2 separate regions of the Homo sapiens genome follow, and region 2 is linked to region 1. The links come from fine-mapping of genetic effects on gene expression. A gene starts in region 1. The other region holds a variant in brackets. All regions are shown on one strand. Distances are between the middles of the regions.

Region 1 (15,502 bases):
TGATTAGGATGCTGTTGGTTAATAGTGATAGAAAACTCAAATCAAGGTGATTTAAGCTAATAGAGAATTTATTGATCCATGTAACTGAAAACTCCAGGGTTAGGGGCTGGCTCTAGGCACAGCTGGATTCGAAGGCTCCAACGATGTCATTAGGACTTGGTCTTCCTGGGCCTCTCTTCCTTGCCCTGCTCTATTTCATCTTTCAGTCTTGGCTCCATACGGTGGCAAGATAGCTGCAGCAACATCAGCTACCCAAGGTGACCCTTCTCTGAACCAATCCCAGTGGCCTGGGAGGCACCATGCTTTGATTAGCCAGGCATGCTCACGTGGCCTACTCTGGAAGTTGGATGTGGGAACTCCACCAAGAACACAGGGACTAAGAGTAAGGAAGGAATGGCTTTCCAAGGGACTATCAAGGGGGAGAGATGGGTGCCAAGGAGCCAACCATGCCAAGTACCAAGAGATGAGGGGGTGCTATGTTCAGATTGTAGCTTTGTGCTGCACCTTTACACCTCCCTGCTCTGGTGGTGCTAACCCACCTCCCTGGCCCTTCTAAATCCTGGGAAGGGGGACTCAAGTCCTTATTCAGAACTCCAGCAGCAGGCTATAAATCCTGTCCCACTTGCCTGAGCCCTTTCAGCCCCTTCACTCAAGGCTAGTTTCCAGATTACCCTAACCTGGAGCTGGCGCCATGTCCTGCAGGAGACGGGAGAGGGCAGAGGGCAGCTTCGGGCTCTTAGGTAGAATTTCTTCTTTTTAAATTTTAATTATTATTTTTTTGAGACAGAGTCTTTCTCTGTCTCCCAGGCTGGAGTGCAATGGTGTGATCTTGGCTTACTGCAACCTCTGCCTCCTGGGTTCAAGTGATTCTCCTGCCTCAGCCTCCTGAGTAGCTAGGAGTACAGTCGCACACCACCAAGCCTGGCTAATTTTTGTATTTTTAGTAGAGATGGGGTTTCACCATGTTGGCCAGGTTGGTCTTGAACTCCTGACCTACATTGATCCTCCCGCCTCGGCCTCCCAAAGTGCTGGGATTACTGGTGTGAGCCAAAGAGCCTGGCCTTACATAGAATTTCTGCCTATGGATCTCACTTTTCTCTGCATTAATACTTACCGCTCTGTTTTCTGACTCTGTTGCCATCAATTCCCCATACAACTTCCTGCCTATTCCATCAGGTTGGGCTCTGTGGTTATTGTCACCTGCCTAAATTGCACTTGGGTTTTACTCACACTCCTTTGGACCTAACTGTCAAGTTCTCAAGAGAGAAGGTCCCATCTCTTTGGTCTTATCGCAGTGAATCCTTACACCACCACCATGAAATGGGCATTATAATTCCTACCTTTTACAGGTAACAGAATAGAATAGAATAGAGGCATGGCAAGCTAAAATAACGAGTCCATGGTTACACATCTGGCAAGGGACAGAACTAGGATTCAAACACAGCCGGTCCGACACTAGGGGCTGTGCTCCTAACTTCTACATGATAGTGCTCAGTTTTAGGGGGAGAGGCTCAGGTGTTACAAAGGGCTTACCCAGAGTTGGGGAACAGTCCCAGGTAGACTATGCCAAACCAAAACAGAACCATCACCAGGAGTTGGCAATGAGTTGTCAGGCTGTCCTAACCTAGAGATTGGGCTCAGCCAATGTCACCAACAGGGAGGAACTCAGACCAGGAACACAAGGGCTCAGAATCCAGTTGCTAAGGTCCGAATAACAAGTGCAGGTGCCCAAATCTGGGGAGGGCAGGGCCGGGGAGAAAGGTGATCTGCCAGGAGGCAATTGACCTGCCCCCTTAAATGCAGATGTTTCCTTCCTCAAGTGCATATCTTGGCTCATGATTCAACCCCTTTATACTCATAGAATCTGGACCTCAAAACATTAAACAGAGATGTTTACTGTGGGTTGGGAAGGGGGACAGAGGTGGAGAGCTAGAGTTCAAAAACCGTATGAAGATGTTTTCTGAGCTGAATACCCCCAGTAGGGCCACACGATGCCCAGGGGACTCACTAGGAGATTTAAGGCATGTACAGAGGTAAGAGAAAATGAGAAACAAGAACATGAAAACTAGAAGAGGAAGGAAGACAAGGCCAAAAAAAGAGAAAACCGAGGCCACTCTAGCGGGAGGTCAGAGACTTGTGCTTTGGCAATTACTGGAGTTGTCCCACAGCGCTGCCCCTCAGAAACCTACACCAGGGTTGGAGGGAGCCATGGGTGGACAGGCTGTACCTGATAACTTGTGCTTCCTTCCCCCAGTTTTCCCACTCTCGTTAATGAGTTTTGAGACAAAATGTCTCTCCCCAGGCTAGAAGAGCTTCAGTAACAAGATGTCCAGAGTTAGTTGACACTCAGGTGAAAAGCCTCTTGCAGAAAGGAATTTTTTTTTAATGCCATCATAAAACTTCCCAGCTCACCTAGGCCTGCCGTGGAAATGGTGCCTCCAAGGACAGAGAGGAGATCAGAGCATCTGATCTGAAGCCGAGGCATAAGGGAAAGTTGGGAATACACAATCCTCTCCCAGACAGAATCAAACTTGCCTTTCTGCAACATCTGATTTTGCAAGAAGTGACGGACTGAGAGTAGGAGAGGAAAAGGAGAGTTCAAACAAGGTCACTTGACCCACCTAACCCTGTCCAGAGGAATGAAGCCTGAGAAAGCCTCCCAGAGACCCGTCCTCAATTTCGCCTTGACCTTTTCTGGGTTTATCCATGTGCAGCAGGGGCAGCTGTCCCGAACTAATCCTCTGCCTAATTCGAGCTCTTCACCCTCCATTCTGTCTCAATTAAACAAACGCGGGTCTGCCAGGCCGTTTCCATAGACCACTCCCTCACATGAGAGGCATTCCAGCATCTGGGCTCTGGAGTCAGGAAGAGCTCTGTCCAAATGTCACTCTGCCATTTCCTAGCTGAGTCACCCTGGATGACTGCCCATCCCTACGCCTCTGTTCTCTCAGCAGTGAGTTGGGGAAAATTGTACTCATCTAGAAGGGCTCAGAGAAACAACAGGGAGAGAGTGCTGAAGGCATTGTGATGAAAAATATTGCTGAATTATTAAACATTAAATTATCAAAATTATTAATCGCATTAAAATATCATTACACACTTACCTGACCCAAAGTCTTAATGATAGGGTTCAAGAGGCTTTTCCTCCCAGAGGTGCAGCTTTGAGGGGCTTTTGTACACTGGCCCTAGAGACACAGGGGTGAATAAGACAGGTACCAGCTCTCAAAGGCACACAGTGAGCAGGGGCCACAAGACAGCCTAACGCTCAACTAGAATCAATGCTAAACATACTATGACAGATAAATGTACAGTGTGCTCTCAAGAGATAACAGTGCCCACCTAGGAAACTTAGGGAGTTGTCATTTGATCTGGGCCTGGAAGAGCGAGCTGGATTTGATTGGATGGATTGTTCTTGGCAGAGGAATGACATTTCAGGAAGAGGGAACAGCAGGAGCAAAAAGTATGATGTTTGGATTCCACTCGGGATATTGGGAACACATGAGAAGGACTAGAGAATGCAGTCTGTTATGTGGGATGGCAGGCTAGGAGATGAGAAAGGTAAGCTAGTCAAGACTCGGAAGTGGCTAATACAACTGAAAGTGGTCCCATAGGACAATGGGAGAACTTTCAGTGATGATGGAAATGTTCTACATCTGCCCGTCCAATATGGTAGCCACTGGCCCCATGTGGCTATTGAGCACTTTATTTATTTATTTATTTTTATTTTTTGAGACAGAGTCTTACTCTGTCACCCAGACTGGAGTGCAGTGGTGCAATCTCGGCTCACTGCAACCTCTGCCTTCCGGGTTCAAGAGATTCTCCTGACTCAGCCTCCTGAGTAGCTGGGATTACAGGCGCACGCCACCATGCCCAGCTAATTTTTGTATTTTTAGTAAAGGCGGGGTTTCAACATGTTGGCCAGGCTCGTCTCAAACTCCTGACCTCAAGTGATCTGCCTGCCTCCGCGTCCCAAAGTGTTGGGATTATAGGCGTGAGCCTTCGTGCCCGGCCTATTGAGGACTTTACAGGAAGCTAGTAAGACTGAGCTGTGAAATTTTTAGTTTTATTTAATTTTAATTAGTTTGAATGTAAATTTCAATAGCCACATGCAGCTAGTGGCTACTATTCTGGACAGTATAGCCACAGAACTTATGACAATGACTCAAGGCCCTCATCTTGCAGTCCCATCCTCAGCCCATAAAATGGGAGCCCCGCCCAAGCTGCTGCTGTGATTATGCAGCAGGGTAGATGAGTTTGGGGCTGAAATATAATTTATTTCCTGCTTGCTAAGCCACGCACTCTGATGTGGCAGTGTCTGCCCAGAGGAAGAGGCAGCTTTTTCTAATTCTTACAGAGGCATCATGTGGGCTAGCAGTAGCCCTGCTTCCTCTGAAGTTTGTTGCTCAGTGATCTGTCTGCATGTAGAGTCAGGTTTCTTTTCATCTCCTGCTTCCTGGAGTCACTGGGCCAGGTACGCACACCTGGAACATGGCCCAGGTGGGATGTGCTGGGCACTGACTGTTAGTGATGCTCCCACAGTGTGAGAAGGCCGGGTCCTCAGTATGGCTGTCAGTGTAAAGTTCTATTCTGCATCCCAAATTCTGCCCACAGGCAGATCCTTTGGCCTAAACTTGAGGAGGAGGTAATGATCTCTACTTTGACCACAGGTTGAAAGGGCAGTCACTATTCCACTTTGCCAGCAAGAGAGCACATATTATAGTTTAATTCTCACTTGGCTTCCTGGTCTATTTCTCAGTTGTTTCTAATACAAAGAGGAAAGGTAAAGTCATGATACTTTTTTGGAGCCTCCTACCTCCCAGCAAAAAGGACATGCACATACTTTCCAATCTTGAATGCAAAAGCGGTGACATATTCACGAGCCAACAAGTACACACATGACATTACTGCTCTAAAACACAGGCACAGACTGTCAAGAGTTGGAAGGAATATTGAATTCTAAAATCTCATCATAAGATGAGGAAACTTGAGTCTCAGAGAAGTTTGATGATCCGCTCAAGCCAGGTAGGAGCCAGATATGGCTAGATCCCATTTCTCCTGAATCAACCCATACCTAATTATTAAAATTAAAGGTTGCGAACTGGTAGCCATTAGTTAAAGTCAGCCTGCTGATTTTTAATTTTTTGTCCTCAGTGTTGGCTCATGCACAACTTAAAAAATATTTTTGCCAGCCTGGCCAATAAAGCAAGCCCCATCTCTACAAAAGAAAAAAAAAGATTTTTAAAAAACTTAGCCAGGCATGATGACTTGCATCTGTAGTCTCAGCTAATAAGGAGGATGAGGCAGAGGACTGCTTGAGCCAGGAGTTGTAGTCTGTGGTGAGCTATGATCACACCACTGCACTCCAGCTTGGGTGACAGGGCAAGACCCTGTTTTGAAAACAAAATTAAAAAAATATATATATTTGGCTTTATTTAAAAGACGAAAGAATTCACTTTGAAATCCAAATTAACGAACATTTCTGGGCCTGTAAATCTACATGGTAGAAGGGGCTGAAGCAATGTCGTGCCTGATCCTACCATAGAGAGGATAAAGGGGAGGAATGAGGGATGGGGATCATTTCAGACACTGATAATTCAAGCAGTTAAGCTGGATCACAAAGTAATATATGCTGCTTTCAAAATGTCTAGTTCATGATTCATTATTGCTTATTATGAGGACTTAGAGTTTCAATCTGTAGAAGTTTCAATAAAATACAGATCTTAGAGATCATGCAGTCAAGCCAATTCATTTTACAGATGAGCATCACAGGTCCCAGACCACACACGCCTTCAGATAAAAACAGGGTCGCAGAGGTGGTGACCAGGCCGGAGTTGGTGGATTCCCCTGGCTCCTGCACTATGGGGGCGCTAGATCTGTCACATTCCTTGCCCCTTTACAAATAGTTTTGGGAGCAAATCCCCAGGAATGTTTCTTGTGGATTCACATGTATCAAGGATACTCATTTCCACACCAAAGGCATTGATGCCCCACCTGGCACATAACAGCCACTCAATAAATGTGTTAGATGAATGAATGAATGAATGTGTAAGTGTGAATGACCTCAAAGGTGAGTGATGCTGCCTAAACCAAGGTCATCGAAACTGGCCCTTAGGGCACCATTCCCTGAAGCCACCCGTGCCATCATCTTTATTCACAGCCAAGCAGCTGGCCCCAGAGCTTTGTGTCTTGCTCTTCCCCAGATATCTCAGTGAAAAGCCTTTGATTCAATTTTCACTCCCTCTCTTATAGCTCTCTTGCTCTAGGACTCCACTGGGGGTCCGAGAGCTGTTCTTCCTCTGCTATTTCCTGTTGTTCTTGAATAAAACAAATGCCCCTTCAACTTTGCTTCTCCATGGGACATGTTGTTCTCTGAGAGGCTCCTTGATCCTGCAAGTAATTAGGTCTGGAAGGGAGGGTGTCCTATTGGCCCTCCAGACTGGTTCAGACATGTCTAGACCCAGCTTAAATTACCTTGTCTGTTACACAAGGATGGTAACATGTTGGAAAGAAAATGAGACAAGCACTTTGCTGCTGTCTGGTAGAGCAGGTGGGGCTCCTGTTTAACATTTGCTGATCTCCACTTAAGAGCAGAACATCATCAGCCTTAGTCGCCATGCTGAAATGGGCTCTGTCACTTGGATAGCGTTTGTCAGTTGAAAGCTTTCTCTCCATAAACATCAACAGACTGGAAACCCAGTGAAAACTTTGTTTTTAATATTTAAAAATTAAGTCTCCACATGCACTCTGGGACAGAGGGGCAATAAATTACAACTTGCTATGTGCCAGAGATTATACTAATTGTATATCTGATTAAATTCTCACAACAGCCTTAAGAGGGTTTTGTAATCCTCATCTGCAGATGAAAAGTGGAGGAGGAGAGAGTAAGTGGCTTGCCTGAGTAAGGGCCAAGACGGAATTCAAACCCAGATTTTTGATGTCACAAAGCTAGTATCCTGGCGGGGCGTGGTGGCTCATGCCTGTAATCCCAGCACTTTGGGAGGCCGAGGCAGGTGGATCACTTGAGGTCAGGAATTTGAGACCCACCTGGCCAATGTGGATAAACCCTGTCTCTACTAAAAATACAAAAATTAGCCGGGCGTGGAGGCAGGCGCCTGTTATCCCAGCTACGAGGGAGGCTGAGGCAGTAGACTTGCTTGAACCCAGGAGGCTGAGGTTGCAGCGAGCTGAGATCACGCCCTGCTGCACTCCAGCCTGGGTGACAGGAACAAGACTCTGTCAAAACAAAACAAAAAAAAAAGCTAGTATCCTTCTCTTAGTGTTGCCCCCTGCAGAGGAACTGTTTTTTTTTTTTTTTCTTTTAAAGCACCCTACATCACATAATGTCAGCTGGACTTTTCTGTGATATTAACACTGGGATCCTGTAAAACACTATATTCTGACCATAGTCTGACACTCTGCATAATGAACAATTAGCCGGGAAAACATAGTATTTGAACCTCCTTTGCAGAGAGGAAATTCTCACAACTCCAAAGCAATAGTCAGCCCACAGTCAATGCCATCTCATCACCCAGCCCAAGGCTCGGCCTAAAACCTTCTAGAGGGTCTCACTCTAAAGATAACCCAAAGGTCTCACAGCTTCCTGGTTGCAAAAACGACAACAGGAGCAGGAATTGAGACCTAAAGATCATTTGGGTAGAAATGAGGAAAGAAATGACATGTTAAATGATGATTTTTCCCTAACTTGCCTTGTTCTTTCTAGATGTGGCTCAAGAACTTGCAGAGTTATGGTGGGATAATTCGACTGATCAAATGCTGAAAGTTTTCCTATCGACTTCAAGGCTGTTCAAATCTCTATGTACTTTGAAGTCTGAGGCACAAGATAATTTCCCAGAGATTCATGTTTCTATCGATGCTAGGCTGGGCTGACACAGATAACCCCTCAAGAGGCCTTTCCGAACTGCTGTATAAACTGTCCTGGGTCCAGCAATAAAGCAACTGTGTCATTATAGTTCTCTGCCCTTCAGAAGATCTGATCTTAATACCCTTCTCTTCTTTTTGTCCCTCTGATTTCATCAAATTTGTTGCCATTCTGGGTGTTTCTCCTTCTCTCCCCGACTTTTTCTACTTCAGATCAAAGAACTTCCCCTTTTTCCCACTTTTGGATTTGCGCCCTGGAGGACAACGCAAGGTTAACTTCCCTCCCACCTCCTCTTGTAGGCACACAGGGTGCCCCTTAGCCAGCGAAATCTCCGCGCCCGAGATCCTCTCACAATTTCAGGCTGGTGAATTGTAGTAGGAGACATGGTTTAGTTTGATGTGGTTAAGTCAGTCATCATGGCATCTTCGTACCCTCAGCCCCAAACCGCTCTCCTACTCATCACCCTCACTTTCATTTCTTTGGATTATCTTTCATCGGCTTACCACCAGCCTTCACAGCCTCACCCAAGGCTGAAGCAGGGCTAGCAGGGTGGTGCGTTTCCTTCCCTGGTTGAGCTGGTGACTGCTGTGGGTAAGCAGGTCCAATGTGAACTCAATTTTACATTGAGAAAGAGAAAGCAAGAGTGAGTGGGCTGCTAAGACTGTTGCTTCATGGTTTCCCCTAAGCCCCAGAAATAGAAAGGCAGACTTCCGACTGGCAGAGCCCGTATGCTAACCACCAGACCACACTGCCAGATAAGAAAAATGTTCGATTGTGTCATACTTCCCTCATTGGCTCCAGTGTCTGAAAATGGCCCTGAATTTCAGAGAGTCTTACCATGACCCAGGGATTTAGAGAGGATCGAAGAGGGAGGACAAAGGAATCAGGCACCTTCTCTCTCTCTTTTCTGGGGTAAATTTATTTTCAACCACAAAAGTAAAGGAAAGAAAAAGTCACAACAGATGAGTTATGAGCTAACTTTCTGATTTGCACATGTAAGAGAAAGAAATGAACTGGATATCATTAGACATTGAGAAAGGGAGTCTGCAAGCTAGCAATGTATCTTCGGCCTTTTTGATTTACACGTGTTTATTTATGAGTACCTACTGTGTGCCAGGCATGATGCTTGGTGCTGCCAATTCAAAGAGAAATAAGACACCTCCTTGCAAAGTGAGAAGGCAGAACTAGATTCAGATTCACCTAGATTTCAACTCTTGTGCTCAGGCCACCACCACCACCATGGAAACAATTTTGCTTGACTCTCCCGGCGCAGCCGCGGCAGGCGTGTGTGTTGTCAGACACTGCAGGAAGAGTGATGGCCTGGGTGTTGACAGGCTCCTAATTGGAAGGTAGGAGGTGCCACCAGAGATCAGCTATAAAAGATATCTTTGGACTGGGGTGGGCTGCTAATGCTTGGAAGAGACTTGTGGGTGAGGCCCGGTGAGCTGTCACCTCGGAATTGGGCCTTGCCCAGCAGACAGACATGCATGCGGGGGAGGTAGCTGACAGACAGGGGCGCATGGGGAAGCAGCCATTCCAGAGAACTGCAACAGCAGATTGCAAACCAGGACTTCAGGACTCAGAGGGGGACAAGGAAAGGAGAGCCTATAGTGGCCCCAAAGCCCAGGGTCAGAGGCAGGGCCAGGAGAGCAGCTGACAAGAGCTTTATGGTAAGGACAAAAGAGAAGACAGCCGGAGTCTCCTTTTATTCAGCTCATAAAGACCCAACTTCTGTGCACTTATAACTGTTCAGACCCTGAGGGGTTCAAAAAAAGAACCGTGTTAGGAGAATTCAATATTTAATTAAGAGATGATCAGATCCGTGCACCGAAATTATTGCTGGGTAAGACAATACTGTGTGTGTTACATAGCATTGGAACTTAGGAAAGCTCTTTCCTTGTGTTGTTTAATTTAATCCACTCAACAACCCTGCAAAGTGGGTACCATTGTCCCTGTTTTTTATGAATGAGGGGGTGAGGTGCTGAGAAGCTGTGTACGTTATTTGAGTTTGTCTGGCTAGTCAGTGGCTGAGCCAAGTTCCAATCCAGGTCATGTGAGCCTCTGAACTTTCTGATAAAACCTGCAGACCCCCTTAACTGGGATAATATAGTCATGCATTAAGCAAGAAGGAGAAGTAAATACAGGCTGATGGTGTAGGGGAGAAATTCAAAGGGAGAAGGCCTAGGAGGGAGAGGGAGCTATGTGTGAACAGAACCAAAGATGGCCTCTGGGAATTGGAAGGTCTCTTGGAATTCGTCCAAACTGAGGATCACAAGTCTCCACATTCTGAGTAGGAGGATGAGGGTCTGAGTTAGGATTTGGGTCCTGCAGGGCTTGCTAAGGAATCCCCTGATGGCCTAGGATTCCACGCAGAGCACATCTGGTGTGAGAGAGCTCGCTGCAAGGGTGAAGGCTCCGCCCTATCAGATAGACAACCAGGCCACCAAGAGGCCCAGCCCTCCAAACCCTGGATTTGCAACATCCTCAAAGAACAGCAACGGGCCTTGAGCAGAATTGAGAAGGAAATACCCCCACCTGCCCTCAGCCGTTAAGTGGGCTTTGCTATTCACAAGGGCCTCTGGGTGTCCTGGCAGAGAGGGGAGATGGCACAGGCACCAGGTGCTAGGGTGCCAGGGCCTCCCGAGAAGGAACAGGTGCAAAGCAGGCAATTAGCCCAGAAGGTATCCGTGGGGCAGGCAGCCTAGATCTGATGGGGGAAGCCACCAGGATTACATCATCTGCTGGTGAGTAGGCTTCATTAATTCTCTGATGAATGGACGATTGCAAGGGAACTTTTTTCATCTTCAAGGAGCCAGAAGAAGTGGTGATTAAATTGGTCTTTTAAAATAAAAAGACTCCAAAGGGGTACAAGTCTTCAAGCTTCCCCTGTGGTGTTCCGGGCACTCTGGCTTCTCTTTCGGAGGGAGGAAGAGCATCTATTCATAGGCTGTGACTTGGAGAGGCCCCACGGTGAGTCAGGCGCTTGCTGTGTGAGCCGCTGGTTGCTAATGTCTTCGGGAACTGCTAATTTACCCATCTAATTTGTTCCTGTACACTGGCCACAAAGGGAGACCACTCAATTATTCTGATCCAAAAGAGAGGCTTGTGTTTACCATGATCTCCCCAGCAACTGTGTGAGTGTGTGTGCATGTGTGTGTGTGTGTGTGTGTGTGTGTGTGTGTGTGTGTGTGTTTGCCTAACAACCTTAGGCAATGACGAAGAGGTGGGGCTGCTGCCCTTGTTAGCATTTTCAAACACATTCCAGTTCTGAGTTGAGGGCAAAGATTGTAATGGGGTGCTTCAGAGAAGCCTTGGCTCCCAAGGAGGTTATAACTTCAAAGGGTGTTTTTGAAAAACCAAGGCGGATGAGGAAAGTGGCTACAAGTTCCTTCCATCACAGAGGATCAATGAAGGGGAACAAAGATTTGGGAGCATCTACTTTGTGCCAGGTACTGTGCTTGGGTTTTACACGTCTTCTCTTGTTGACTTTGCATAACTCCCCTTTGAAGCAGATATTACTCCAGGTTCTTGCCGTAATGTTTCAGCTTAAAGAAAACCAACCCATACTTCTTTAGGTTGCCCTGAAAAGGTGAATCTTCTGTGAAGCCTTTTCTGTCTTTATCTGTTAAAATTAATTAAGCTCTTGTTTGTGCTCCCAGAAAATCACTTTAGACCTTAGAAAGATGGCAGCCTCAGTTTTCTCATTTGTAATATAGGGGTACCCATAGGGTCATTGTGAGAAATAATAGAAATAAATCATGGAAGTGCTTGGATAGTAGCTGGTACTTAGCCCTCATCAGTCATCATTGTCATTGTTGTTAAGAGTAATAATAATAATAATATCACTTATTATAATTACTCACCTCTAGGTTTTTAAAAAACTTACAGGCCGGGCACATTGGCTAACGCCTGTAATCTTAGCACTTTGGGAGGCCAAGGCAGGCAGATCGCCTGAGGTCAGCAGTTCAAGACCAGCTTGGGCAACATGGTGAAACCCTGTCTCTACTAAAAATATGAAAATTAGCCACGCGTGGTGGCTCATCCCTGTAATCCCAGCTACTCGGGAGGCTGAGAGAGGAGAATTGCTTGAACCCGGGAGGCGGAGGTTGCAGTGAGCCAAGATGGCACTATTGCACTCCAGCCTGGGTGACGAGAAACTCCATCTCATAAAAACAAAAACAAAAACAAAAAAACTTACATAAATTTATGGGGAACAAGTACAATTTTGTGACAAGCGTAAATTGCATAGTCTTGAAGTCAGGGCTTCTAAGGTATCTATCACCAGATTGATATCTATTGGTATCTATCACCAGATTGATATCTATTGATATCTATCACCAGATTGATATCACCACATTGTACCTATTAATTAATTTCTCATCATCCTCCCCCCACCCTTCTGAGTCTCCAGTGTATATTATTCCATACCCTAATGCCATGTGTTCACATTATTTAGCTCCCACTTATGAGTGAACAGTGTGATATTTGTCTTTCAGTGTCTGACTTTTTTAACTTAAGATAACAGCTTCCAGTTCTACCCATGTGGCTGCGAGAGACATGATTTCATTCTTTTTTATGGCTGAATAATATTCCATTGCATATATATACACCACAGTTTTAAATCCAATCATCCATTGATGGACACTTAGGTTGATTCCACATCTTTGCTATTGTGACTAGTGCTACGATAAACATACAAGTGCAGGTATCTAATTATTTCTTTTCCTTTGGATGGATACCCAGTAGTGGGATTGCTGGATTGAATGGTAGTTCTAATTTTAGTTCTCTGACAAATCTCCATACTGTTCTTCCTAGAGATTGTACTAATTTACATTCCCACCAACAGCGTATAAGAGTTTCCTTTTCTCCACATCGCCACTAGGTTGTAAGTTCCTTGAATGTAGGGATCATGTCTCTTTTCTTCATTGTTTTATAACAAGAGCCTAGGAGTGTTTGGCACATGGCAAGTACTTGTTTTCTAGCTGACAGATGAATGAACAAATGAGTGAAGGATGCTTCCTCCTCACTGCTGTGAGCTTCTGAGAATGGACCCTTGTCTGACCTGCTTCTGTATCTCTAGTGTGACTGCTTTGTCTGGCACAACAGAACTGCTCAGCGATTCTGTTGAACGGATGCTGCTGCCTGGCCCGTATCTGGCCTGGAGAGTCTGGCTGCGAGCTCATCTGTGCTCTGGTCTGGCTAAGGTTAGCTGCAGCCCTAGGAACTCAGAGAGTGTGTCCTGGACATTTCACCCCTAGTTGGTGAGCTCCTCAAGGGTAGGGACGGTGTCTTGTTTATTTTTAAATTCTTGGTGCCCAGTACAGTGCCTGGTACACAGGAGATGCTCAAATGGCTACCCCTAGCCTCTGAGGTCCCACTGCACTCAAAGAAGAGCAGAGCTCCAAATGACCTTGTCATCTTTCCCCTATTACCCAAACCTGTTCAATTTCCCCATTTCTGTTTATTAAAGATCCATTTTCTCAGTTACAAAGATCCAAGACTCCTCGAGGGTATTCTACCCTAACGGAAATAGGACAGGCTTTGTAGTCAGACTTGAACCCTGGCTTTGGCGACTACTAGCTGTCCTGCCTGGAGAAGTTGCGTACCCTTCCTGAGCCTCAGTTTTCCCTTTCATTGAATCAGGATGATAATACACACTTCATTCATCCACTCAGCAAGTGTTTACTGGGCGCCTCATACACAGCAGGAACTGTTCTAGGCACTGCGGATACGTAGACGTCAACAAAACAAACATTGCTCTTGCCTGAAAGGGGCTTACAAACTTGAGAGGGGGAGACAGACACCAATCAAATAAGCAAGTACACATATAGTATGCCAGATGGCAATATGTGCTAGGGAGAAAAATAACACAGAGTGAGGGAAAATGGAATGCGCTGGCCCGGGTTATTAGTGTCTTACTCAGGTGATGAAGGAAGACCTTTCTAATAAGAAGAACTCACATCTGGGGAAGAATGTTCCCGGAAGAAGGAGAAGAGCAAAGGCCCTAAAGCAAGAGTTTGAAGAATGACAAGGGGTCCTGTGTGGATGAAGCAGAGGGAGGGAAGGAGGAAGGGAGTGTAAGAGAAGGGGACACAGAGATGGCTAGAGCCAGATATGCAGGGCCTTATAGGACTTTGGCTTTTTACTCTGGGCAAGAAGGAAACCTTGGGAGAGCTTCAAGCAGAGGAGCGAAATGATCTGATGCAGGTTATGAAAGGATCCCCCTGGCAGTGGCACAGAGTATGGCCCCTGACCTGTGTGGATGGGGCAGAAGCATAAGGCTGGCCATTTGCATCCCACAAATGACCTCAGTGTGAGGGATGAGCGAGATCATATACGAATGCGCTTGCGTGAGTATGCATAGAGCAAGTGCTCAAGCCATGGCAGCTTCTATCAATGGCCCTGCAGCTGCCTGGCTATAGCTCCCTGGTCTCCTGCAGACAAGTCTTGGCCAGTCACGTGAGTGCCTCTGTCATTGCCCACTCAGTCATTCCCCCTGCCCCCACCTCCTTTCTTCAACCCTTCACTGGTGGTTAAGCTCCTAGCACAGCAGCCTCACCTCCAGCCTCTCCCCACCCCAACCCAACCCAAATGCAACTCCACTCACATCCTTCCCCTGTTCAAGAGTCTTCCATGGACTAGTGGCTCATTAAATCCACATTCTTGGCTAGGTGCAGTGGCTCACACCTGTAATCCCATCACTTTGGGAGGCCAAGGCGGGCAGATGGCTTGAGCCCAGGAGTTTGAGATCAGCCTGAGCAACATGGCAAAACCCCATCTCTACAAAAAGCAAACAAACAAACAAACAAAAAACAAAACAAAAGAACAAAACAAAAATTAGCCAAGCGTGGTGGCACACACAGCTGCTTGGGAGGTTGAGGTGGGAGGATCACCTGAACTCAGAAGGTCAAGGCTGCAGTGAACCACAGTATCACCACTGCACTCCAGCCTGAGCAACAGAGCAAGACCCTGTCTCAAAAAAAAAAAAAAAAAAAAAATCCACATTCCTGGAGACTTGCAGCTAAGGCCTTCCACAATAAGATGCTGCATTTACGTTTCCCACCCATAATCAACTGCTATCCCAAACATATTGAATATCTGTGGAGAAGTATGGGTGGGTGCAATATGTCACTCCTAGCAGAATCACTGAGGAAACTGACCACACTCATGATGGAAAATTGACGGTAATGAGTCCTTCCCTCAGGTTCCCCAACCCCACAATATGCCCTAACCATGGTGGACATGTATTCCTGTCTGTCACTGGCTCACTTCTCCCACCAGGCTACCGCAAACTCCACAATGATGTATATTCTCTTAAAGCTACAAAATGGCTTGTGGTTTCCAAATCAGTTTTCCTTACTGCTCTTATCTCCCTTGATACTTGCCCCTATGGGCCCCTCATCCATAATAAAATGCCCTCATTTTACACTTACTAGTTCTGACAAGAGTCCCAGGTTCCAAGTCATGGATTCCCATGTGGGATTGCTCCTCTGATCCTTCATTCCTATATCTTTTTTCAATCTATCCACAATTCACAAGGCATCGGTGTCAGACCAATGGCAAATAATAAGTGGGACCTGCTGGCTATGGATGGAAGAGCGAAGTCCCTGACAACATGTTTCT
Region 2 (15,502 bases), 28 kb after region 1:
AAATGGTGGTTTGAAAGTTGTTGGAGGGGAAAATCAGATGAAATCAGGGATGTGGCTGAAGCAGTCAGTGTAGCAGTGTAGCAGAGAAGCAGAGAAGCTGTCAGCAGCCTACCCAGGCCCCGAAATGGGCACAGCCCTGCATTTCTGGCCTGAGGCTTGCCGAGGTCTTAGGTGAACTTCAGCTCTTTCTACAGCACCCCAGTCTCAGCACTCTTTGGTGGATGTCCTGATTGGCTGGGAGATTGTTGCTTCCTGATACAGTGGTGATTACTTCTGAAAGATGGGGTAATACCAACAGCTATCGTTTCTGACCATTTACTGTGCAGCATCACTGTGCAAAGTATTTTTATACATATCCTATTGACTCCTCTCAAAACTCCTGTGAGGCAAGCAGGCACCCCAGTGGCCTCATCCTAGTTCTGGCCCTGGTGACATTATGATTGCCTCCATCCTCCATTTGATAGGTACAGAAACTGAGGTTCAGAGAAGTGAAGTAAATTCCCCCAGATCACGCAGCTAGCAAACAGCTGAGCTTCTATGCTCATCCTAAGGCTCGGTTGAAATGGATTTTTTAAAAGATGTATTTTGGGCTCTTTACTATATAGAAAACCGAATCTGTTTATCACTAAGGTTACTAATAGGCCTTACATCTGTGAAAACTTATCTGTCAGCTGGCCCTGAAATGTTCTGAAATGAGTCTGAGCACAGGATGCCTGTGACAACCGAATAGTTTAAAAAAATTCTCCATGGGAGCCGAAACCCTATTAAGACAGGTCTTTATTTTTGTTCCTGAATGCCACATTTAGAAACAAAATGTCATATTTTTGTATATGAATGTCACAAGTGACAAAGCATATGTTGCAACTTGGCTTCTAATGGTTGAAAAAAAAAGAGAGGTAAATTATCATAATGTTGGGATCTTCTCAATTATATTTGCATTTTCATTTCTATCAGAAGTCCATTTTAGCAAAGGAATGTAACCTTAGTCACTTGAAACTGCTGTTCCCTTAGAAAACAATTGTAAATGTAATAAGCAAAAAGGATAGAAAATGCCCACAGGGGAAAAAAATGATCCATCTGGGGTCAGAGCCATCGTGTAGATTGATTCATTCTTCTTCTAGCATTCTTATTCAGGAAGGAAAACTTGAACATTTTCTAGATTTTAGGATATTTAAGATTTGCAAGGAATTGGGGGAAAGGGAAAAGGAATGAAATTTCAGTCCCACTGGCAGGGATCAAATAGAGATTTTCTCAACTTTTAAAAGAACCGTTTTACATGTCCCAATCACCTCATAGTTCCTGAGTCTCTCTTCTGCATAAGGCATGTACTAGTTGTTAAGGGAGGATACAATAAGGTCATGATTGCTTTAAAATTATTCATAATAAAAACACATTTTGAGACTTGATTCTAAATGTTAAACTTAAATTTGAGCAATTTAATTGCCCGTTGAATAGGAATGAAATCCCACCGGTAGGCAGTTATTTCTTACAACCACTGTGTGTGAAATTGAAATCTTAAGATACCATTTCAAATATTCACCTTCTCTAAGGAAGTTCTCCCCAAAGAGTTGTGAAAGATAAGAAACTGACCCAAAGTCATATGCAGTAATCTCTTTTTCTTTACACACTCAGGTCAAAGTAGAAGCATATTATTAAAAAGAAACGTTATGCCCTGAATTTGGCTGTTCTGAGGTTACCTCTTGGAACCCAAGGATATATTTAATTTAAAAACTGACTTGAGCCCCATGCAAAACTGTGACAAGGAAAGTAATAATTTATCAGATTAAATAAAAACAAGCAGATGTGGCCAGGCGCGGTGGCTCATGCCTGCAATCCCAGCACTGTGGGAGGCTGAGGCAGATGGACCGCCTGAGGTCAGGAGTTTCAGACCAGCCTGGCCAACATGGTGAAACCCCGTCTCTACTAAAAATACAAAAAATTAGCTAGGCGTGGTGGCGAGCGCCTGTAATCCCAGCTACTCGGGAGGCTGAGGCAGGGAAAATCGCTTGAACCCAGGAGGCAGAGGTTGCAGTGAGCTGAGATCGCACCATTGCACTCCAGCCTGGGTATCAGAGCGAGACTCCATCTCAAAAAACAAACAAACAAACAAATAACACCCAAGCAGATGCAAACAGGTCATTTAGTCACCACGATAATGAACGTTAAAATGGAAAACACTTACATGTTTTATTTAGGAGAAGAAGGGGGTGAGGTGAAGGAATCCTGTTTCCTGCTTTTAAAAAACAGGAAATAGTTTCCAAATTTGGGTGGGCAATTCTTATTTTAAACCCCCATTTCACCTTTAAATTTAATTTCAAGCTCTTTTAAAATTATCTTAATGATGCCCTTTACTATAACATAGCAGCTGCCATTTATGAGTGCTTACTATATACCAGTTGCTTTTCATGCAAGCAACTTCATATCTGTTATTACCCCCATGCCATTACAAATCTATGTGCCACCCTTTTGTGCACTAACTCATATAATCCCCACAATAACTTAGGCAATAGGTTCTGTCGTCTCCATTTTACAGATGAGGATACTGGGAGTTTATTTGTTTGTTTGTTTATTTATTTTGAGACGGAGTCTCACTCTGTCACCCAGGCTGGAGTGCAATGGCGCGATCTCTGCTCACTGCAACCTCTGCCTCCTGGGTTCAAGTGATTCTCCTGCCTCAGCCTCCCGAGTAGCTGGGGTTACAGGCATGTGCCACCACACCTGGCTAATTTTTGTATTTTTAGTAGAGATGGGGTTTCACCATGTTGGGCAGGCTGGTCATGAACTCCTGACCTCAAGTGATCCACCCGCCTCGGCCTCTCAAAGTGCTGGGATCGCCTCGGCCTCTCAAAGTGCTGGGATTACAGGTGTGGGCCACCGAGCCCGGCCAGGATACTGGGAGTTTAAATTCCTGCTGTGAGCCCAGGTTGACACAGCTGGTCAAGGATGGGTTAGAATCCAGGTAGTCTGACTCCAGAGCTACTACCGCATACTGCCTCCTCAGATTAAATAATTTTCCTAGGACATGCTAACTGATAAGTAAGAGTCTAAATCAAACCCAGGCAGTTGGGTTCCAAAATTCCAGCGTTTAACCACCACATTGACTGGTTATAAGTAGGTAAACTGTTCATCACAACCTATATATTTATTTTCATTTCTGTTAGAAATGAAAGTAGTGTGGTAGGTTACATATTTATCACATAGTTTAGGCTTGCCTAAATTCTAAGTATTTTCTTTTTTAAATTAAAAACAAGGGTCTATCGGAAAAAAAAAAACCCAACTTTTTTTTTTTTTTTTTTTTTTGAGACAGGGTCTCACTCTGTTCCCCAGACTGGGGGGCAATGGTGCGATCATGGCTCACTGCAGCCTCAACCTCCTGGGCTCAAGCAATCCTCCCACCTCCGCCTCCCGAGTAGCTAGGATTTCAGGCAAGCACCACCACGCCCAGCTAATTATTTTTATTTTTTATTTTTTGTAGAAACGGGGTCTCACTGTGTTGCTCAGGCTAGCCTGGGTCTCCCAAAGTGCTGGGATCACAAGCATGAGCCACCGAGCACAGCCGAAAAAGTCTTTTTGTATACTGAAGTCTCCACTAGGACAAAAATTTGCTCTTAAGGCTTCCTTTGGGACACACACACACACACACACACACACACACACACACACACAGCTTTTGATTATACCCATTAGGGACCCAAGCCTTGGGACACAGGGACCAGAAAATGACAAGAGCATGCAGGCAGTAGTAAACTCTGGTTATCCTTAAAATGGGAACAGAAATGTATGCCTATGATCCAGACTGATCATATAAAACCATGGATCCTGAAAGTACGTTCCCTCTTTACAAGCCTTAATGACTGGCATCACGCACAAATAGGCCTTTCAGCTTCTGAACGCAGATATTTTCAAGGAACTCTGAGGCCCAGGAGAGCCTAAGTTTTTCTCCACGGAAGGGCAAACTACTAGCCTCCCCCGCTTCCCCTCTGCGTTCCTGCCTCTTTCTAGAAGGAGGCTGAGAGGGGGAAGCCTGAACCCCCAAATCAAGTCCGCCTTCTTTCTCTGTGCCTGACCCAGGGCAAAATAATCTCTCTGATCCTGTTCTTGACCATTGAAAAAGCACTTTCTCTGGTCGGGATACTACTGGCACTTTACATGGGGGGCAGTTTAACCGCAGGAGTCCGCTTTCTGAAAGGTGCAGAGGGAGGGGATTCCGCCACCAGCCGACTGAGAGGAGCCCCGGCCCCGCGTGGTCCCTCCCAGCCACCCTCCCTCTGGGATTAGCTGCCCTGGCTCTGCTCTAGGCGTCCCCAGCCCGTGCAGTCCCGGCTGGCGCACCACCATCGCCTCTGCAGAGCGCGGCCGCAGCCCGGAGCCCGCAGCCCGGAGCCCGCAGCCTGGGGCCCGCAGCCCGTAGCCCGCAGCCCGCAGAGCCGCGCTGTCCGGGGCATCCCAGTGCACGGCGTCCGTGGACCTGGGACCTCGAACCTGGGACGGGCGGAAAATCCACTGGGAACACTTGCATTTCTGTAGGTGCTTATTTCACATTCTTGTCTTTTCTTGCTTGCTCGAGCTGTTCGTGGGTTACTTTCTGCCTTAGTTAAACCAAAAGGGAAAGGCGGAAGAGGGGAAGCCCTGAAGAATGATTTAGTGGTTGCCCAGCCTCCTTTCCAAGGAGAGGTGTTCGCTGAGCGGCTCTCCCCGTCCCCGACACTGGCCCCTTTAAGAAGCCAAGTCAGTCCTGATGCTGCTGTTTGTATTGCTAATCCCCAGGAGCCCCGTTTAAAAAAAAAAAAAAAAAAAGGAAGAAAAAAGGGGAGGTGGGGGGACCGGGCAGCTGTCTCTTTAAATGTGATTTCCTTCTATTGTATTTGAATCGTGATCAGGAAAAAGGAAATGAAACCAGAGACAGAGGGAAGCTGAGCGAAAATAGACCTTCCCGAGAGAGGAGGAAGCCCGGAGAGAGACGCACGGTCCCCTCCCCGCCCCTAGGCCGCCGCCCCCTCTCTGCCCTCGGCGGCGAGCAGCGCGCCGCGACCCGGGCCGAAGGTGCGAGGGGCTCCGGGCGGCCGGGCGGGCGCACACCATCCCCGCGGGCGGCGCGGAGCCGGCGACAGCGCGCGAGAGGGACCGGGCGGTGGCGGCGGCGGGACCGGGATGGAAGGTTAAGTCCTGAGCAGCAGCAGCAGCTGCAGCCGCCTGGAGCCAGGCTGCGCGCCCCGGCCCCCGCCTCGGCCGCGGCGCGCCCGCAGCCCGGTGATTCGCTCTCTCTCTTTGGCGTTTGAAGGGAGCGCGGTGACTGTCCTTGAGCGCGGAGGGGCGAGCTCGCCGGCGGAGCGCCGGAGCAAGCGGAGGCGCAGGAGCGGCGGCGACGGCGGCGGCGGCGGCGGCGCCCGAGCACCCGAGGGGGTCCGAGCCCCGGCAGCCGGCCAGCCCCGCGCCACAAAGGGAGCGCCCCCGCCGCCCGGCACCCCGCCTCCCTCCCCAATGTCCTCGGCCATCGAAAGGAAGAGCCTGGACCCTTCAGAGTAAGTGCGGCCCCCCTGCCCCTGCCACCCCCGGTGTCCACGGCCTCGCGTCCCGGAGCGTCGGGGGGACCCGGGCGGCCCGCGAGGGGGCTCCAGGTGCGCGCTCGCGGCGTGCCCTTGGCCCCCTGTGCCGAGCGCTGGGCTCCTCCTTCCTCCCGGGTGATTCCGGGGGCTCTGGGAGAGGGACTGGGCGGCGGGCGGCAGGGACAGGGGTCGGCCCGGCGCCTCTGCGGGCCACTCCAGGCTACTGGGACGCTCCCCAAAGCCACCACGGGCCAGAAAGTTTGCACGGGAGCAGGCACGAGGAGAGCCTGGAGGCGCGCAGGTGCAGTCCGGAGAGCGTTCTGGGCTTGACTCTGCTCCCTTCTTCCCTCTCCTTCTCGGTCCTTTCTCTTTGTCCATTTGGTCTTGGAAAGGGGAACATTCCAAGTGGCGGCCTCCGGGGTCCCCAACGGCCGCCTTCCCGGTCCGCAGGTGGAGCCGCTGCCAGCCTTGCGGATAACGGGCGGGTGAGGGGTCCGACCGTCCACCTCGGAGCTGGCTCTGGGCCTCCAGGGATTTCTAGAGCAGCGAAATCCGGAGTAAATCTGAGTAGGTGTACCCCTCCTCGGGGTCCACCGATGGGGACATGTGAACCTCGAAAGTTAATGCACCATTTTGTGTATAGGTGAATTATTCTGGGGAGTAGAGTCTCGTAGTTTTTAGCAGAGTCTTAAAAGGGTTTGGGGTCAGGGAACCAGAGCTCTAATGAGCATTGGCCGCATCTGTTTTCTGAGCCGCGTACTGGTTTGGAATGTTTTTCTATCCCTCACCCATTCTTCAGCGTTAACATGGGGAGTAAGGGGTGTTTAAGATATCATTTTCCTGTCAACGCAAATGCCCTTTTAAGAGTCATTAGCTGTCTGGTTTTGAGAATTTTTATTCCTTTGAAGTCCCCCTCTAATCCTTTGAAGGGATTTGTTACACAAGACCAAAGGAGCTGGTTAATGACTTGTCCATTTGTGCTTTTAAGAGACATTTGTTTTGTTTTTTCTTTTCCTGCTTTAAAAGAATTGTGCTTTCCTGCTTGAAATACCGCACACACACACATACACCCTTCAATTTCGGCTTTCTATGGTGTTTATTTACCTGGGTTTTACCCTCAGTTACCAGCATAAAAGCTCAACATATTCTCATAAAACACAGGAAGTACCACCATCCAATGAGAATATAAACATCACTATTCAGTCTTGAAGGTTAAGACACCAGTTCTGTAATGAGCTAGGTTTGTTATAACAAAAACCCCCACTTCCTTCAACAAATTCTCAGGAGAAAAATAACATTCCTTTTTAAAAGTATGTTTATGCAAACAATGGGTTTAAAGGGTGGTTTGATCACTTTTTTAAAATAAACTTAAAACTGAGCTCTGAGTTTCAGAGACTGGGCAAGATCATAGTAACACAATAAGGGAGTGAATTGGATGAATTGGTGCCTCATGCCTTTTTGATCAGCAGAATTTAGTCACTAATCCTTTCAATAGAAGATTAATCTGAAGGTTTCATTTCCCTGAAGGAAGTTTGCTTCTTTCAAAGTTTGTGCTTTTTCACTGAGGTTAGAAACTGAAACATCCTAACTTCCTAATACAACAGATATCTACTGCTGGAGGCTCACCAGCTCCTTCCTTCACTTCACTATTTGCCCAACGAAGACAGATTCTGATCAAAGAGGGACAAGCCAGTTGAGAAATTGCTGCAGCACATTCTCCCCATGCCCTTAGAAATTGTTATGATTGTCCCAGAAATCCAGGCTTAAATGATACTCAGGTGTAATATTCAAGATAAGGGTCTGGGAGAATATAAAATATTAATTTGAGGGTGAATCAATCTAATTCAGTCATTGTCTTGGATTGTCCACTAAGTATAATGTGATATTATCATTAATTAAGTATAGAAAGACAGAGCCAATATCTTATACTTTACTTCTCCATCTCATCTCAGGCCATCACCGTAACTCTTTTACTTTACATTCCTCCTGTTGTCCAGTATCCTACTAGATGCTTCATTGTGTACTTCCTCAAATCCAGCTTGGGTCATTACAATCAGCATCTCCAAATTACAGATGGAGACTTGCCTAGCTATATGCAAATGAAACATTTGGACAGAAAGCCAGCCAGAATTCATGAACACAGATTCCCTTGCTGTGCTACTGGTGGCCCCCACTGCCTCCCCTGTGAGTAACAAGAGCAGTTCATTTGAATT[C/G]CAGGCAGTTTTGCACCAGCTAAGGGCAAATTCTCTTCTTTCACAGTCCTTTGGCAGCATCAACATCGGGACATCCAATGTGCGTCCAGGTTCCATGAGTGGTTTTGAAAGCCCAGAGTAAGACCATGGGCTGTGGAAAGAGAAGAGATGCAACTCTGAGTTGATACACATGAAAAAGCTAGGGTATTAGTTATTAGAAGGGGAAATGGCAGTCCTTATATACAATCTGTAGAAACAAAGGAAAGAAAGCAAGGCTTCAGTGAATGAAACCTCGTCTCTACTTAAAATAAAAAAAATTAGCTGGGCCTGGTGGTGGACACCTGTAATCCCAGCTATTCGGGAGGCTGAAGCGGGAGAATCACTTGAACCCAGGAGGTGGAGGTTGCAGTGAGCCGAGATTGTGCCATTGCACTCCAGCCTGGGCAATAAGAGTGAAACTGTGTCTCAAAACAAACAAACAAAAAACTATAGTTTTGAATTTTTTTGAGCTAGGGTCTCACTGTGTTGTCTAGTCTAGAGTGCAGTGCTCACTGCAGCCTCAACTTCCTGGGCTCAGATGATCCTCCCACCTCAGCCTCCTGGGTAGCTGGGACTACTGGCTCATGCCACCAAGCCTGGGCAATTTTTTATATGTTTTGTAGAAACAGGATTTTGCCACGTTGCCCAGGCTGGCCTCAAACTCCTGGGCTCAAGTGATCCTCCTGCCTTGGCCTCCCAAAGTGCTGGGATTACAAGCGTGAGCCACTGTACCTGGCCATTTTTTTTCCCCAGATAAACTAACTTGAGCTTCCCATTTTCTTGTTCCAAAGATGATAGTCTCATGAAGTGCTGTTACACTGTGTCTAGAAAGTGTGGGCATGGCTTTAGCACTCCTAAATATTCATAAGGAACACTTCATACTTCACATGACGGGATCACCTGAAGTTGTCAGAGTGTTATAGACATTGAGCCACCTAGCCTCCTGTCCCCAAGTATAATGGCTGCTGGGCTTTATGGGCACAGACCAATTAGGACACAAGGTCGCCTGGTAAGTTAGTACCAGTTAGAAATAGGAGACATGGATTTATACCTGCAGGGTACCCAGGAGGAAACTCCCTTTGGGAATTTTACAGATGGAAGAAGGTCTGTTTTTTGAAACATAATAGATTTTTAAGAAATAGATTTGTGTTTAAGTAAGGTTCCAGAGAACACTTGCTAATTATTATAAATCAACACGTATTAAGTGTTTGCTGTGTCCCATGTGGGGGACACTAGAATAATTCCTTCCACTCCTTTATTTTCTTTTAGCAAAGTTATTTATTTTTAAATGTAAAAATGTATTCAGATTCCAGTGAAGCAAAGTGAACAGGAGATGCTATGCATGGCGTATTAACGAAAGAACACGTGTCACAGCCTATTAACAATTGCTGGATTGAGATGTCAGTGTCTGTTTAATTGCCTTCCACTCTCTTTGAAATAATCATTGCCCCCACTTCATTTTCTTCCTCAAATCAACTTTATCCAAATCAATTTTACTCTTATAAAAATGTTCAGGTAAGGAAAGAAAGGCCTATTTGATGTCCTTCGTGTAACAATGGCCTTACGATATGGGATTTTCCTCCAAGTATTCCTTCAGTAGGAAGAATGGAAAATGGAATTTCTGTAAAAAAGTAAAATTAGGAGAATTCCTATTATGTCCTGATGGAATTTTGATTTTGGAAAGAGAAAGCAACCTAAAATAATTTTTGGTCTCATTCTTCTTTCTTCCTCACCTCTGCTTTTGTGCAGTTGGTTAGGGCTGGAGGGAGGATGGCACTGGGGATTTGCAGATTCTTAGCACTCTGGGTCATCTGCTGCCCTGGCAGTGAGCGACTCTTTTAGTCCAGAGTGCGTCCTTTGAGGTTAGGCAGTGCCCTTGGGTGTCCAGGTTATGGGAGGAGGAAAATGAGGGAGATCTGTGAAGATAGAGTCAGCGGGGAGAGTGGGAAAAAGCAGAAGGAGACCAGAGGTGCCCAGGTAGTGCTGGGCATGGGCAGGGGCACAGTGCCACCTGCAATTGCCTTTGATGCCTCTTGGTGCCCTGTGTTTACTTCTTAGACATCTAGGGAGTAAGGTCTGGCTCTTTCCCGTCTTAACCCAAGGTTGGTTGGGACTCTGCAGTCTGGCCAAGGGATGTGTTGTCCTGTCCCTTCTCCCTTAGGTCACTGAAAGGCAGTCAGGTGAGATGCCCTGTCTGGCCCAAAACGATCTCGGACCCTCGGTGCTGGTCTCACTCTGGTGAGGCTGTCCCTGATGCTTGGCCTTCTCTCCAGGGAACCAGTGGATGAGGTGCTGCAGATCCCCCCATCCCTGCTGACATGCGGCGGCTGCCAGCAGAACATTGGGGACCGCTACTTCCTGAAGGCCATCGACCAGTACTGGCACGAGGACTGCCTGAGCTGCGACCTCTGTGGCTGCCGGCTGGGTGAGGTGGGGCGGCGCCTCTACTACAAACTGGGCCGGAAGCTCTGCCGGAGAGACTATCTCAGGTACCCTCCCCGGCACTCCACTGGGCCCTCGGAAGGGAGGCTGGGTGGTCCATGGACATCTGCAGTCGGTGTGTGTTGCCCCTTACCCTGCTCCAGGCTCGGACACCACCTATAGAAAGAGGTCAGACTGCAGAGGCTGAGTCTCAGCTCCTGTGCTGAGAAGCAGAGGGCATTTCTTCCTGTTTGAGAAGCATGTTCTCAGGGTTACGTTCCTATGTGGTAAAATACTAATATCTTTAAAGGCAAGAGAATTGTATACCCAAAATTCAGAAAAGTGCTTCCCTTGGGGAGCGGGAGAAGCTAGGGGATGGGATTGAGGAGGAGTACACACGGAGGATCAGAGGGACTGGGAGTGTTTCTAAGTTTGGAGGTGGGCTCTGAGGACCTCATTTGAATGCTTCAGAACATATATGTATGTTATAAATTTTTTTTGTATGACTCCAGTATTATATGATGAGAAATTTAAAAATAGAAAGCATATGGAGCTCCAAGCATTGACTCATAGCAGGAAGGCAGTCTTCGAAGAGCAGAAAGGCAAAGGCCCTGTAGGCAGTTGGAGGTTTGAGTCCCAATACCATTGCTTCCCAGCTTGGTGGCCTTGGGCAAGTTATTTAACCTTCCTAAGCCTCGATTTCCTTATCTGTAAAATGGGGATGATAATAGCACCTACCTCTAAGGATGTGGGGAGGATTTGATGGAATAATGCAGATAAACTACTTGGCTTGGTATGGATCAAATAGATGTTAGCTGCTCTTACATAATCATTATTTTCCAATCTAATGAGCAAAGGGATGGAAGAATGGAAGAGTAAAATAGGAACTCGACAACACCAAGTAAGACAGGAGCTGAGGACATCTCCCATGCTCTGGGCCATCCTATTGGCCATCCGAATTTTCCAGCACTGTGTGAAAGCCTTTGCCTAGAATGTACTAGTGTTTCTAGTTTCCGATGAGCTGCTGTGGAGGTAACTGTCTCTGTGCCCTCTACTGTCAGATCTGCTCAACTGTGTAGCTGTCAGTATTTCTCCGTTTTCCTGGAGCAGAGGGTCTGTGAAGCATGCTTCCCTGATACACCAGGACCATCCAACCCATGGAAGCTTGTTGAGACCTCAGCGCCCTTGGCTGCTGGGCCAGCTTTTCCTCCCAAACCTGCCCTCAGAGCATTTTACATTATAGAAACAAAACAAAACCAAAAAAACTGCAGGCAGTTTCACAGTGAAGGAAGCTTTACCTAAAGACTGTTAGAAGAAGCTTTTTGTCCTTGAATTCCCAGATAAAGTTCTTGCAGTCCTTGCAGATATGGTGGTTCCGAGAAAATAAGTAGGATTTTGCAATGATCATGCTTATAATTTTGGTCAGTTTTCTTTTTTTTAAGTCACAGAAAATAGAACTTGGATAAATACAGACCTGGTTTTGCTCACTCCCAGTTTGCCAAGTCAGTGAGAGGGCAGACGGGTAAATGATTCCCATCGGACCCTTGACTCCATCCCTGTCAAATCATTTGAATCTTATTAACTGAAGTGCAGATAGAGTAAGGTCAGAAGAGCCCCAGCTTCTCCCTATCTCTACCGTTTTATATAACATTCAGGAATAAAACCAGTGCTGCCTGGGCTTGTTAATCCTTTCCATTTTCAAAAAGGAGAGGAAAAAAAAAACAGTCTGGGAGAACCCAATGTTAATTAACTTGTGTCTTGGTGACATGAAATAATTCTTCTCCCTGCCACATTCCTAGGCAACATGTTAATTAACTCTGCATTAGTGCAGGCATTTCCAGCCATTCTTTAATATTTATATTATTGTTATTAAAATGGGCAGCAGAGAGCTTAAGATGGGACATCTCTTGACAGAGGAGAAAAATTGTCTTTTGCGTCAGGGATGGTCCTTTAGCCAAGGTCTTGTTTACTGGCATTCTTAGTATATCTGGCAGGATCTTTTAACAAGGCAAGTTGGAGGAGTAACTGAACGGGCCCTCTAATGTGTTTGAGTTCTTCACCCCTAGGATAACTTGTCCCCGTGAGGATTTCCAATGGCTGAGTTGCCTGTTACAGTTCTTTTCCGACATTTAGCTTCAAACATTCATGAGACCCCCATGCAGAACCTCAACTCTGCTGCTGTGTTGTATTGTTGGGAACCCAAGAGCAGCTGTTCATGTCTGTGCTGAGCCAGATCTCCTTGGATCCCTTTTCACTAATTCTTGTGTGCTGGGAGTGGTGGGGTGGCGGTGATGGCAGTGGTTTTGCTTTTAACAGCCAGCACCTGAATCTGTTAGAGCCAGAAGTATGCCTGCCCCAACTAGACCCCCAACGGACCTTAACCAGTGACAGACATGGTGGGAGTACCAAGCCCCGCAGCCTTGCCTGGAGCCAGGCATAACTTATATTCCAGGGTCCCTCCCCTCTGAGGGACTTTGCCTGAGGATACAACTTGGCTTGGCTTCCTCCCCTTCCCTCCAGCCTCCCCTGCTGCCTTCCAGGTTTTTCCTGAGAATGCCTCATTCATAAATCACTGGCACATCAATCCTTGCCTCAGGGGCTGCTTCTGGGATATCCAGCCTAAGATACCAATTCTTGGTGCCAGAGGTTAATGCTCAAGTTAGGTGTCAAGTCCCGGCTTATTTTTTACTAATATTAGAATCTCCGAATCCCAGAGCTGGAAGGGGCTACAGAGACCTTCTTTTTCAGTTCCCTTGCTTTATGGCTTAAGTCACAGAAGCCTGTACAGGGGACTCCATTTGCTCAGGTCACCTGGCAAGTTAGAGGTCATGCTGGGACCTGAACTTGTCTCCCACATATTCGTCCTTTGTCCTTCCCTTCATAGCTGCCTGATGTGGGTTGTAATTTACCCCCTGACTTCCCTTTAATAAGCTCCCTCCTTCCTTAAGGATCGCACACCCCAGGCAGTTGGATTCATTCCATGCACACTGTTTTCTCAGTCGTTCATCCTTGCTCAGGCCCAAACTTAACTTACAGAGCAGTCAGGAAACCAGAACTGTCTTTCCACTCTGTGACCTCCAATGTGGCGGTTACCTGCAGCTCCACCATCTGCTACGTTGGGATAAAATGTTCTCCCCCCAGTAATGAGTTTGCTCCCAGGCGGTGCTTTGAAAACACTCAGAGATCTTCAAATGGAAAGCAGGATTCAGAGGCAAATTAGCTGGCCCTGGCCCGAACAATGAGCTCTCCACTCACAGACCACCTCTTGTCAATTCCATTAATCTCGCCCAAATATTGCAAAATGTGTCAACTGCCCTTAGGTCCCCTACAACCTCTCAGAATGTACCCACTGATTCTCTGATATCCTGAAATCAACCAGAACTTCCAATAAGAGCAAGCATTCACCTAAAACTGTCCTAAAGGTTTTATGTAGAAACCACCTGCTAACATGCTATGTTTTCAGCCACGAGTGAAAATTACTTCCTGCAGCAAGACTGGCACAGCTGGGAATACACCCAAGATGTGTTAAAACATAACCAGCGTTGGCTTAGCCCTTGACCATGGGTGCCCTGACATGCTTCGTTTGGTTGTTTTAACAGCTGAGTGAGGTGGAGCCTATGATGGCTGCCATTTCACTGAGGCTCAGAGAATCAGAGGTCTCTCCAGGGTCACTCAGGGCTGGTCCGGGACATTGAAGCTGGGTCTTCTCTGCTTCCGGTACTTGTGTTACTGCACTTTTGCTGTTGATTCTCAAATGTCAGCCTGCAACCAGTCCCCCGGAAGTGTTCATTAACGCACAGACTGCTGGGCCTTCTCCCCAGGGTGTCTCAGTTGGGTAGGGAAGGAGGAGGGCTGAGAATTTGTTTTTTTGTTTGTTTGTTTAGTTTTTGCTTTTCTTTTGAGTCAAGGTATGGCTCTGTGGCCCAGGCTGGAGTGCAGTGGCATGATCTCGGCTCACTGCAACCTCCACCTCCCGGGCTAAAGCCATCCTCCCACCTCAGCCTCCCAAGTATTAATAGCTGAGACTAGAGGCATGCACCACCGCACCCGGCTAATTTTTGTATTTTTTGTAAAGACACAGTTTCACCATGTTGCCCAGGGTGGTCTCGAACTTGTGAGCTCAAGTGATTTGCCTGCCTCAGCCTCCCAAAGTGTTGGGATTACAGGTGTGAGCCACTGCGCCCAGCCTGAGAATTTGTATTTCTGTCAGGTTCCCAGGCAGTGCTGATGTCGCTGGTCCCAGGACCAACACTTTGAGAACCACTGCACTGAGCCCTGCCATGTTCTGTCTCCCACCTTGACACTGAATACTGCCTGAAATAAGTGACTGATCAACTGAGGCTTGGGAGAGTCTTGATTTAAATGTCAGAAAAGAAGTTTCCCTTTTGATTCATGCCAGTGGGCAGCGAGGGCCATGAATTAAGATCCTCCCTTCATGGTGGAGAGATGCTGTTGGTCCTCCATATCTCAGAGGCACGATTAGCTGCACCGCGTGTTTTCTGTGGAACTCCCTGTCTCCCAGCAGCTGGGGCCCCAGCGAATAATCAGGGGGAGATGTGCTTTGCAGCTTATGGAGGTATTCAAGGCCAGCTCTCCCCATGGGTAGAATCAGTGGCTGTTGACATGATAGAGTTTGGGAGCCTCAGAAGAATGCCCGTTTTATTGCATTCCTGGTCAGTACCCTCTCAAAGGGGCCCCTAGGGTCTCTCTCCAGCTGCTCTTCTGAAATGAGGGTTCCCCTGGGAGGGGACAGGTAATACTTGCCTAACTCCTTATGATAGATCACATCAGCTGAGAGCCTTGCCCACAGAGGAGGAGCCAGGGGGCAGCCTAGGGGAATGATGAGCGGTTGCTGCAGACAAGGAGAGGGCTCAGAAAAGGGAGGAGTTATGCCAGATCCAAATGCCAGTTTCATCTGAGTTCCCTCTGCCTGCTGGTGAAGACTGCACTAGCCGGCCCTCCTTCTGGAGCCGACCTTCCCTGGCTTCCTGACATCCTGAAAGTTCGGCCTCCTTTCTAGGGCTCATCCCCGAGCCCTGTCTTCCAGGATTGTCCCTTTCACTGTCTTCTTAGCTTTTCTTTCTTTTGCCCCAGGCTTTTTGGGCAAGACGGTCTCTGCGCATCCTGTGACAAGCGGATTCGTGCCTATGAGATGACAATGCGGGTGAAAGACAAAGTGTATCACCTGGAATGTTTCAAATGCGCCGCCTGTCAGAAGCATTTCTGTGTAGGTGACAGATACCTCCTCATCAACTCTGACATAGTGTGCGAACAGGACATCTACGAGTGGACTAAGATCAATGG

Direction of the effects. Alleles are on the strand shown, and positions count from the first base shown. SD is a standard deviation of normalised expression in the study named.
With allele C in place of G in region 2, the expression in nucleus accumbens of the gene that starts at base 10,342 in region 1 is higher (small effect, 0.33 SD a copy in GTEx).

The links. PIP is the estimated chance that this variant, and not a neighbour inherited with it, causes the effect.
Region 2: its variant is fine-mapped to the expression of LMO2 in nucleus accumbens (GTEx, PIP above 0.99). The same link has a PIP of 0.9 or more in caudate.

Annotation. Positions count from the first base shown.
Region 1 is chr11:33,886,916-33,902,417 of GRCh38, reverse strand. It overlaps LMO2 (LIM domain only 2), which reads left to right and starts at 10,342. Exons shown (of 6, transcript NM_005574.4): 1 at 10,342-10,623. LOC105376621 (a long non-coding RNA gene) reads right to left here and starts at 8,472. Exons shown (of 3, transcript XR_931176.3): 1 at 8,383-8,472. RefSeq lists enhancers at 8,230-8,399, 10,777-10,886.
Region 2 is chr11:33,859,366-33,874,867 of GRCh38, reverse strand. LMO2 (LIM domain only 2) reads left to right here. Exons shown (of 6, transcript NM_005574.4): 3 at 4,881-5,158; 4 at 5,282-5,522; 5 at 10,051-10,266; 6 at 15,293-15,502. The coding sequence starts at 5,152. Among named protein-coding and RNA genes, the nearest start is that of LMO2, 25 kb to the left of the region's middle. RefSeq lists silencers at 4,246-4,485, 4,916-5,335, 5,356-5,435, 5,626-5,705. The variant C/G (reference allele first, on the strand shown) is at 7,760.